Regions from separate parts of the Homo sapiens genome. Here region 1 is linked to region 2. The links come from fine-mapping of genetic effects on gene expression. A gene starts in region 2. The other region holds a variant in brackets. All regions are shown on one strand. Distances are between the middles of the regions.

Evidence for each region.
Region 1: its variant is fine-mapped to the expression of SCPEP1 in whole blood (TOPMed, PIP above 0.99).

Annotation. Positions count from the first base shown.
Region 1 is chr17:57,006,829-57,012,208 of GRCh38, forward strand. No RefSeq gene overlaps it. Among named protein-coding and RNA genes, the nearest start is that of SCPEP1, 31 kb to the left of the region's middle. RefSeq lists enhancers at 3,153-3,782, 3,419-3,618. The variant T/C (reference allele first, on the strand shown) is at 2,619.
Region 2 is chr17:56,975,506-56,980,885 of GRCh38, forward strand. SCPEP1 (serine carboxypeptidase 1) reads left to right here and starts at 2,626. Exons shown (of 13, transcript NM_021626.3): 1 at 2,626-2,730. The coding sequence starts at 2,655. It overlaps LOC105371836 (a long non-coding RNA gene), which reads left to right. Exons shown (of 4, transcript XR_934875.4): 4 at 244-502. RefSeq lists a silencer at 2,509-2,568.

The DNA.
Region 1 (5,380 bases), 31 kb after region 2:
TTTCCGACAAGTATAATAATTTCTAGTTTGTTGCTATTATACATAGTGCTCTGTTGATTCACCCTGATAGTTAGATTTTTTTGTACCTCCTTATTTTCTTAGAATAAATTCATAAAAGTGTAATTATTTAGTCAGAGGATTGCCACATTTCCTTAAAATCAAAATAATTAGCTCAGGACTTTTAACTTTTTATTCATAGCTCAAGATCTACATAAGGAGGTTTGATGCCGTGGCTCACACCTATAAACCCAGCACTTTGGGAGGTCGAGGCAGGAGGAATGCTTGAGCCCAGGAGTTCAACAACAGCCTGGGCAACATAGGGAGACCCCATTTCTACAAAAAAAATAAAAACATTAGCCGAGCATGGTGGCACACACCTGTAGTCCCAGCTACTCAGGAGGCTGAGGCAGGAGGATCACTTGAGCCAGGGAGGTTGATGTTGCAGTGAGCCATGATCAAGCCACTCACTCCAGCCTGGGTGACAGAGACCCCATCTCAAAAAGAAAAAAAAATCTGCATAGGGGATCTAACAGCTTCTAGGACTGTCTGAAAGAAATATCACCTCTTGTAGTTGCAGGGCTGAGATTTTATTTATTTATTTATTGAGACTCTGTGACCCAGGCTAGAGTGCAGTGGCACAATCATGCCTCAAATGATCCTCCTGCCCCAGCCTCCCAAGTAGCTAGTACCACAGGCAAGCACCATCACATCCAGCTAATTTTTAAAATTTTTTCGTAGAGTTGGAGTCTCACTATGTGGCCCAGGCTGGTCTCGAACTCCCAGGCTCTAGCAATCCACCTGCCTTGGGCTCCCAAAGTGCTGGGATTACAGGCATGAGTCACCAAGCCTGGCCAAAGGCTGAGATTTAAAAAAACAGCCAGGCACGGTGGCTCCAGCCTGTAATCCCAGCACTTCGGGAGGCCAAGGCGGGCAGATCACGAGGTCAGGAGATCGAGACCATCCTGGCTAACACGGTGAAACCCCATCTCTACACACACACACACACAAAATTAGCCAGGCGTGGTGGCGGGCACCTGTAGTCCCAGCTAGTTGGGAGGCTGAGGCAGGAGAATGGCGTGAACCCGGGAGGCAGTGCTTGCAGTGAGCCGAGATCGCGCCACTGCACTCCAGCCTGGGCAACAGAGCAAGACTCTGTCCCAAAAATAAATAAATAAATTAATTAATTAAAAAAAATAACAAACCCAAAGCTTATTCCTGCAGACTGTGAGGAAACAGTTAACAGCAGGTTATGTCTACGTGACTAACCCCTTCAGACCCTGAGACTAAAAACAGGCTCCTGGGACAGAGACTACACATGTCCCTATGGTTCACTGTTGGCAAGAACTCCAGTGTGCCCATGGAAAGCAAGAACCTTAGAAGCCTGTGCTGGATACCCCTGGACATCACCCATGTGTATCGTTTTTACCTGCCGCTTTTGATATGCATCTTTTGTTACAAAAATGTTAGCTATTAGTATAACCTGCTACTGAGCCTTGTGAGTCTTGGTGAACCATCCAACAAAGCAGTGAATCATAAAGCAAGTTGAATTCCCAACCTCACAGAGTCTCTTCTGTTAAAAGTTAGTGCATTGATTGAGAAGAAATGTAATTCTGAACATTGAGATGAGTCACCTGCACAGATGAAGCTAGGGGACCTCAAACCTTTTTGGCCATTAGAAGCCGCCCTTCCATTGCTGTCCGGGCAGGTTAATCATGTCTTGTCCTAAGATCTTGTAGTAAATTCCTAGACTTGCCCAGGGCTCTTATTCCTGCTGTATAACATTCTCTCTCAACCCACACCCCTACCTTCCTAGGGAATCCCTGTGATCAGTTGACAAAGGAAGACAACTCTCAGGCTTGATTTACAGACGGGGCTCCACAGTATGCATGCATCACCTGAATGTGGACCGCTATGGCACCACGGCCACACTCCAGGACAGCCCTGAAAGATGGTGTGAAGAGAAATCCTCCCAGTGGACAGAACTTGGAACAGTGCACTCAGCTCTTCACTTTCCCTGGAAGGGGAAATGAACAGAAGAATAAGTGCACCAATTCATGATTTAGCTGGGTATTTAGGGACTTGGAAGAAACTTGATTAGAAGGCTGGGCACAGTGGTTCATGCCTATAATACCAGCACTTTGAGAGGCTGAGGTGGGAGAATCCCTTGAGTCCAGGAGTTCAAGACCAGCTTGAGCAAGATGATAACACCCTGTATCTACAGAAAATAAAAACATTAACTCAGCATGTTGGTGCACCTCTGTGGTTTCAGCTGTGTAGGAGGCTGAGGTAGGAGAATCACTTGAGCCTGGCAGGTTGGTTGAGGCTACAGCGAGCCATATTTGTACTCCAGCCTGAGTGACAGGGTGAGACCTTGTCTCAAAAAGAAAAAAAACTTGATTAGAAAATTGATGACAAGAAGCTCTGAGGAAGAGGTATGAGATTAGATCTCTGAATGGCCGAGTATGAAGATCATTGTTTTCCATCTGAATACTCAACTAGGGCAAGGGAAGATTTTAATAATCAGGTGGGTAGATGACCCATTCTGTGGCTATTAGCCTCCTTCAGCCATTCCTGTAGACTCATGAACAAAGTGGCCATGGCGGCGGGGATGGAGGCTA[T/C]GCATGGGCTTGGCAACATGTGCTTCCACTTACTAAGGGTGACCTGGTCACAGCCACTGCTGAGTGCCCCATCTGCCAGCAGAAGAAACAACACTGAGCCCCTAATGTGGCATCACTGCTGAAGAGATCAGCCGGCTACCTGGTGTTAGGCTGATTACATTGGACCACTTTTATTATGAGGCAGGCAGCACTGTGTTTTCAATGGAATTAACCCTTGCTCTGGACATAGATGTGCCTTCCTTTCCCACAATGCTTCTGCCAAAACTAGCATCTGTGGACCTACGGAGTGTCTCATCCATGACTATGGTATTCACAGCAAATGAAAGGCAGCAGTGAATTTACACAAGTGGAATTGACTGCTCTCACCATGTTCCCCATCCTCTTGAAGCAACTGCCCTGACAGATGGTTGAATGACTGAAAATTCAGTTACAGGGCCAGCTAGGAGGGGATAGATTGCAGGGCTGGGGTGCTGCCCTCCAGTATGTGGTACATGCTCTAAATCAACCGCCTTGTTTCTCCCATACCCAGGATTCATGAGTCCAGTTATCAAGGGATAAAAATGAAAGCGACTCCTCTCACTGTTAACCCTAGTGATCCAGTGGTAGAATTTTTGCTTCCCATCCCTGCAACTTTAGGTTTTGCTGGTCTAGAGGTCTTAGTTACAACGGGAGAAATGTTTTCTCTAGGAGACACAGCAGATAATCCGTGGAACTGGAGCTTGAAGCCACCATCTGGCCTCTTTGGGCACTGCATCAACAGGCAAAGTGCTGTCTGCAGTGATTGATCTGACTATCAAGAGGAAATGGGGTTGCTCCTACACAATGGACGTAAGAAGGAAGAATGCAGGAGATCCTTTGGGGCACCCCCTAGTACTGCCATATCCTGTGATTAAGGTCAATGGAGAGCTACAACAACCCAATTAAGACCGCTAATGGCCCAGACCCTTCACAAAAGATTTAAGTCATTCCATCAGGCAAAAAGCCACGACCAACTGAAGTGCTTGCCGAGGGCAAAAGATACGCAGAATAAATCATAGATGAGGGCAGTCATAAGTACTATGACCTTGTGACCCACTGTAGAAACGAGGACTGTAATAATTATGAGTATTTCTTTCTTCTTTTGATGTGAATCTATTTTAATAAATATTAACAAAAAAACTTTTTTTTTTGAGACAGGGTTATGCTCTGTCAACCAGGCTGAAGTGCAGTGGCACAATCACAGCTCACTGCAGCCTTCACCCCCCACCTCCCTGGGCTCAAGTGATCCTCCCACCTCAGCGCCCCCAGTAGCTGGGACTGCAGGCATGCACCACCATACCCAGCTAATTTCTGTATTTTTTGTAGAGATGAAGTTTTACCATGTTGCCCAGGCTAGTCTGAAACTCCTGGGCTCAAGTGATCTGCCCGCCTCTGCCTCCCAAAATGCTCTGCCTCCCAAAATGCTGGGATTACAGGCATAAGCCACAGCTGCATCTGGTGAACCAAATATTTTTGTTTTTATCTCTCATTCCTTTATCGTCTCTGATGTGCTAATAGTATTTAACCTTTTTTGTTTTTCTTTTTTAAGACAGGGTCTTGCTCTGTCACCGAGGCTGCAGTGCAGTGGTGCAATCACGGCTCACTGCAGCCTCAATCTCCTGGGCTCAAACGATCCTCCCAGGTAGCTGTGACTGCAGGTGCATACCATTGTGCCTGGCTTTTTTTTTTTTTTTTTTTTTTTGAGACAGGGTGTTGCTATGTTACCCAGGCTGGTCTTCAACTCCTGGCTTAAAGCAATCCTCGCAGCTTGGCCTCCCAAAATGCTTGTACCTAACTTTACATATAAATATTTATATTACAAGATGTCAAGGAAGGAATGTGAAACAGCTAGTAAAAGAATGAGCATCATCCAAAGACAAAAAGTGGACTCTGATTCTCTTCTGGGGAAAAAGATGTGTATTTCTGGGTATAGGAAGGACAGTTGTGTCATGGTAAGCAGAGTATGACTTTGTTATTGACTTTATTTGGAGATTAAGTGTGGTTTAAGGCAATGTTATGGGTGCCAAGTTGACAAGGGGTGGACTGTAGTGTTTTTGTAATGTTTCAACTTGCCTAGGCTAACTTTTTCAGAATTACCTTTCTTGTATGTTTCTGATTAGGGTGGCCCACAAGAGAAATTCTTCGGAAAATGTGGAGGGTGAAGTGAAGCAGCAACAGTTTTTCATTCATGCATGTTATCGTTTTTCTGCTGGCTCAGCTCAGCTGAGCTCAGCTGCTCCCCCTTCCCCCGGATCCTCCTAGAGCATGTCTGCTTCCCGGGCCAGGTGAGTGTGCTTAGCACTAAGAGGGACCCAAGAACTGACATGCGTTTCAGTCCCATGGACTCCATCTCTTGCTTGTGGGATTCACATTGTTCTTGTCCTTCTCCACTTTACATTCCTTGTTCCTTCCTGACTGCTTGCCCTGTGTACTTCAATCTCCAGCATCAGATTTGGAGACAAAAGCCTTATGAAGACTTCTTAACCAGCTCCACACTGCATAAGTCAAATCCCTGTTACACCTTCCCCCATACGCACGGCTGTGCACATGCAAACACGCACACACCGTTCTGCTTCTGAAATTGAATCCTTTTTTATTTTTGAGATAGAGTCACTCAGGCTTTAGGGCAGTGGTGCGATCACAGCCGCCTCGAACTTCTGGGCTCAAGCCATCCTCCTGCCTCGGCCTCCCAAGTAGCTGGGACTATCGGTGCGTGCTACCACTCCCAGCTAATTCTTTTATTT
Region 2 (5,380 bases):
GTCTTCCTTTCAGCCAGCTCTGCATGAATTAAACTGTTTCCCCATTGCAATTCCCCTGCCTTCATAAATTGGCTGGCTCTATCTGGGCAGCAGGCAAAAAGAACCCATTGGGGGATTACATAGCCACTCCTCATCGGAGAAATTTCTACTGGCTCTTCTTCCAGCCTCAACTCTCTTTGGCTAATCTTTCTCTATATGTAGCCTTCACTTCTTTTCATCTTTCTCTCTTCTTTCCTCTCCTAGGAGCAAAACAAAATTTCTCCTGGGCCGCACAGTTTGGCAATTATCTTTTGTTGCCTTGGCTGCAGCTACTATGCCATCAGCTCCCAACTCCTAACTTCAATGAACCAAGGAGGTATTTTTCTTAAACAAAGACCACTCCAACCCTGAAGATTGGAATTTCGCCACTGCCTGTAAGGATAACAAGCTTTAATCTGGTTTCTACATGTGGTTTTTGTTTATTTTGTTCCTGTGATTATAAACTGTAATGAAAAAAGAAAATGTTACTGTAATACTTGATATCATGTATTTATCCATGTATCCAACCTTCTTTCCATCCTATCCATCAATCCATCTTATATTCTGGATACTTTTTTTTTTTTTAAGAGACATGGTCTCACTATATTGTCCAGGCTGGTCTCAAACTTCTAGGCTCAATCAATCATCCCACCTTGGTCTCCCAAAGAGCTGGATTACAGGCATAGGTCACTGTGCCAGCATCTGGATACATTTCAAAGAAAATTGTATACATTGGTACACCTTCCCCTAAACACTTTAATATGAATATCATTAACTAGAGGTGACATTTTATTTATATTTTTTCCTTTTGAAGTCATATTAGCGTATTATAAAATGCACAATTTTTTTGTGCGTGTGTGAGATGGGGTCTTACTCTGTCACCCAGGCTGGAGTGCAGTGGCACCATCTTGGCTCACTGCAACCTCCACCTCCTGGGTTCAAGCGATTCTCATGCCTTAGCCTCCCGAGTAGTTAAGACCACAAGCAAGTGCCACCACACCCAGCTAATTTTTGTATTTTTGTAGAAATGGGGTTTCACTATGTTGGCCAGGCTGGTCTCAAACCCCCGACCTCAAGTAATCTGCCCACCTCGGCCTCCCAAAGTGCTGGGATTACAGGTGTGAGCCACCTTGCGCCCTGGGCTGTAGTGTTATTTTTGTGGCAAAAAAATTGAAACCCTAAAATTCTGACTGCAGTGGAAGGGTAAGTGTATTTCAAGCCCTAGTGATACAGACCAACTTGGAAGCTTCAGACAGGAAAAGTTTGCTAGATAGTTATTTATTTTTAACTAAGCATGTACTTTTATGTATCTCCCATATGGCATGGAACACCTGCTCACTGCAGCCTGGAGCTCCTGGGCTCAAGTGATCCTCCCACCTCAGCCTTCTGAGTAGCTTGGACAGCAGGCGCGTGTCACCACATCAGTTAATTTTTGTTATTTTTTGTAGAGAGGGGGTCTCAATATGTTGCCCAGGCATTATGGATTTTATGCATTCGGGACCATCCCATGCTTAAAGCATGACAGAACCCGGCGGCATATTTTTCTCTGCCGCAGCTTTCAGTGCAGGGGCACCTCACAGGCAGGGCGGGGTCAAGGCTCTGTCCAGACAATGGCTGCAGAGTAAAAAGCACTTCCATTTATGGGGGTCAAGGGCGAGGGGAGGGAGAAAGGAGCAGGGAAAGAGGAGAAGTGGCCACATGTACTTTGATTTGTTTTTTGCTTTTTGTTACATGTACTTTTGAAGCAGTATTTAGAAGTAGCCTCTCCTACAGCCCCTGCTGTAGCTTGTCTCCTAGCTGTGAGGTGAGTTATTCAGTACCCTCTAACGTAAAAATGACCTTCAGACAGACAGACAGACACACACACACACACACACACACACACAGAGGAAAACAGCTCTGTCATCCACTTTTTCTTCCTTTCCCGTCCCCAGACCCTCGATTCTCTCTTTAAAATGACTGCTGTGAAGATAACGTAACACAGAGTAATACTAATGACAAATTATCAAAAAAGAAAAAAAAAATAAAAATCTTTATTAGTGTTTTTTAAAATGACGTAAAAGACTATGGGAAAAAATGCCAACAATAGTTATGTATAACTTTTTTGTTCATATTTCCAAAACGTTTATAACATACATAACTTTAAAAGAAAAATAATTTAAAAAATACATATCTGAAAATGAAACCCCGCTGTTTGCCAACGACCAGCTGGCTTAATCTGACTTCGCAGATGTAGCAGTGTTGGAAAACGTCGGTTCTTTTGCTGAGGGAAGGAAGAGATGGGAGGGGTAGAAAGGGCGGTGGTTATTCCCTTTAGTATTTCGATCCGGTCACACAACCTAAATCCAACATCTGCATCAAATGTCTCCTTTCCGAAATACTCTCCCTAAAATGACAGAGAACCTGGCCAGGCGGACAGAACGGCCCCTGCGCATTTGCAGGGGTCCTGGTGGGCTTGCCGGGCAGAGGGCGTGCGGGTCTCAGCAAGCTGCCGGGTCCGCCCAGGCCCCGCCCCATGCCCATTCAGGCCCCGCCCCCGACCCGCAGGCCCCGCCCCCGACCCGCCCCGTCCGCCTCCGTCACGTGATGGGGCGCCGGGTCCAGCCTGTTGCTGATGCTGCCGTGCGGTACTTGTCATGGAGCTGGCACTGCGGCGCTCTCCCGTCCCGCGGTGGTTGCTGCTGCTGCCGCTGCTGCTGGGCCTGAACGCAGGTAGGTTCAAGCAAGAGGCGCACCAGCTGCCATGCCTCTTTTTTCTCCAGGCGTGAGAGTTTGTTACTGGGTTTGTGCTTTTGAAAACATGTCTCTTTTCCCCGGTTCTTACCTTGTGTAATTATATTGCTTTTGAATCTCACTCTTTTTTTTTTTTTTCCTTAAAAAATTCAAAGTGCTTTTTTTGTCCTTTTCTGGCTCTGGGTGGTCTGAGTGCTTCCGTTCTCTCCTACGCCTAGATAGAAGCTGTGTGCAGAAATGTATGATTTGGGGAAACTGCTGGTCAATGAGGTTTCCCCGATTCAAAGGCCATGATTGGCTGCTAAATGAGGATATAAGGTCGTTTTATTTTAAGCTGAAATCTGCGGTCAAAAGTACCCTTACATCCTACCACGAATGGGACATTTCATTGAGATAAGGCCCTTTCTTTTCTTGATCAAAACAAACAAGATAACATCTTCCCCCACAGCGATCTTTTTTGGCAAAAAACAGATTTGTGTTTAATAGGATGACTTGCAAATTGATTTTCAGCAAAACCTCTCCTAGTCTGAAGCAAGCACTGAGAATTGGAACTGGCCACAAGCTTGCCTTGTGACCTTAGGCAAGTTGTTGAACAGTTTTGTTTTCCTTTTCTAAAATGGGGATCATCTGGCCCTTAGGCGAGTGTCTGGGAGATTTTGTAAAATAAGTAGCTCTGCCAATTTTACCAGTAGTCACTGCCAGGCAAGGGAGAAGTGCCTGGGGTTAGGTCAAAAGGTACCTGCGCCTTATCTGTCATTCTCAAGGGAGCGCAGCCTTATCTGTTATTGTCAAGGACAATATAATCGTGTGTTACTTGTATATAGAACCTTATAGCTAAGTCTGTAATGTTTTAGTCATCTGTTTTGCTCCTCAGGACACTTTCTGGTTTTCTTAATCTTCATTGTTGTTTTGTTTTGAGTCAGGGTCTCACTATGTTGCCCAGGCTGGTCTGGAACTGCCTGACTCAAGTGATCTTCCTACTTCAGCATCCCAAGTAGCCCGGACTGCAGACACAGGCCACCACCCTGGCTCTTTCTTATTTACAAGACGTTGTCTCATTGTCTTCCTCTCTACTCCTGTCTCTTTAGCTGTTGGGACCAGTGTTCTTTTACTGACCAATGGGGCTTGAAATTTGAGAAGGGAGGAAATAGAAGGCAGAAAACTCCAGTCACCGAGGGGATCCCCCCCATCATCTTTTAACAACAGCCCCTCTACTTTTTTTTTTCCCAGAGTGGTTTTGGAGGAAAAAAAAAAAGATGCTATAACTTGGAAATTGTTACGTTAGCAAAAAGTGACAAAGAAAATGTATTTAGCCTACTCTTTTCTAAAACATATTTTGTGGATGCTAGAAAAGTTAAGTAAGGAAAATTGGAGTTAGGGGATTATAGGATACGTATATTAAACACACATACACAGATATATATCGTTCAGTTTAAAAAAATCATCTACATGAGTTAGGAAAATTGCCCTTTTTCATATTTGTTGTAGCTCTTTCCTTGCTGTTTGCCTTTTTATTTTTGATTTACAGAAATTTTGTTGTATAGAAATATAACAAGTTTCTGTTCTCACCTCCATCATTGTTTCTTTTGTACAGTCTCTGGGGTTTGCTTAGATTCTTTCCTCATCCAGACATTAGAAATATATTTAACTATATTTTTGTATTTTTTTAATGTTTAAAGTTTAAAATTTAATTGCTTGATCCTCATGGAACTTATTTCGTTTATAGTGTTGAGAGGACCTAAATTTCTCTTTTTTTCTCCAAAAAAGGTAATTGTTGCTCCATTACTGTATATTGAATATTCTCAGCCCCACTAATTTGTGATGCCTCTTCACTCATGTTTTTTGTTTGTTTGGTTGGTTGGTTTTTTGTTTTTTTGAGATAGGATCTCCCTCTGTCACCTAGGCTGGAGTGCACTGGTGTGATCACAGCTCACTGCAGCCTCAACCTACTGGGCTCAAGCGATTCTCCTACCTCTGTCTCCTGAGTAGCTGGGACCACAGGCATATGCCACAATGCCCAGCTAATTTTTGCATTTTTTGTAGAGATGGGGTGTTGCTATGTTGCTTAGACTGGTTTTGAACTCCTATGCACAAGCTATCAGCCTGTCTTGGCCTTCCAAAGTGTTGGGATTACAGGAGTGAGCCACCAAGCCTGGTGTCTTACTCATGTATTAAATACGATATAAAAACCAGTATATTGCATTCTGAGATTTTTACTTTTTTACTCAAAATATAAATCTCTCTTGTTTTTACAGAATTATAAAAGTATTTCCTGTAATCCCAGCACTTTGGTAGGCCTAGGCGGGCAGATCACCTGAGGTCAGGAGTGCGAGACCAGCCTGACCAACATGGAGAAACCCCATCTCTACTAAAAATACAAAATTAGCCAGGCGTGGTGGTGCATGCCTGTAATCCTAGCTACTTGGAAGGCTGAGGCAGGAGAATCGCTTGAACCCGGAAGGCAGAGGTTGCGGTGAGCCGAGATTGCGCCATTGCATTCCAGCCTGGGCAACAAGAGCGAGACTTCGTATCAAAAAAAAAAAAAAAAAAAAAAAAGTGTTTCATATTTATTGTTAAAAATCCAAACATTACAGAAAAGTGTAGAGGAAAAAGTGAAAGCCCCTGGCCT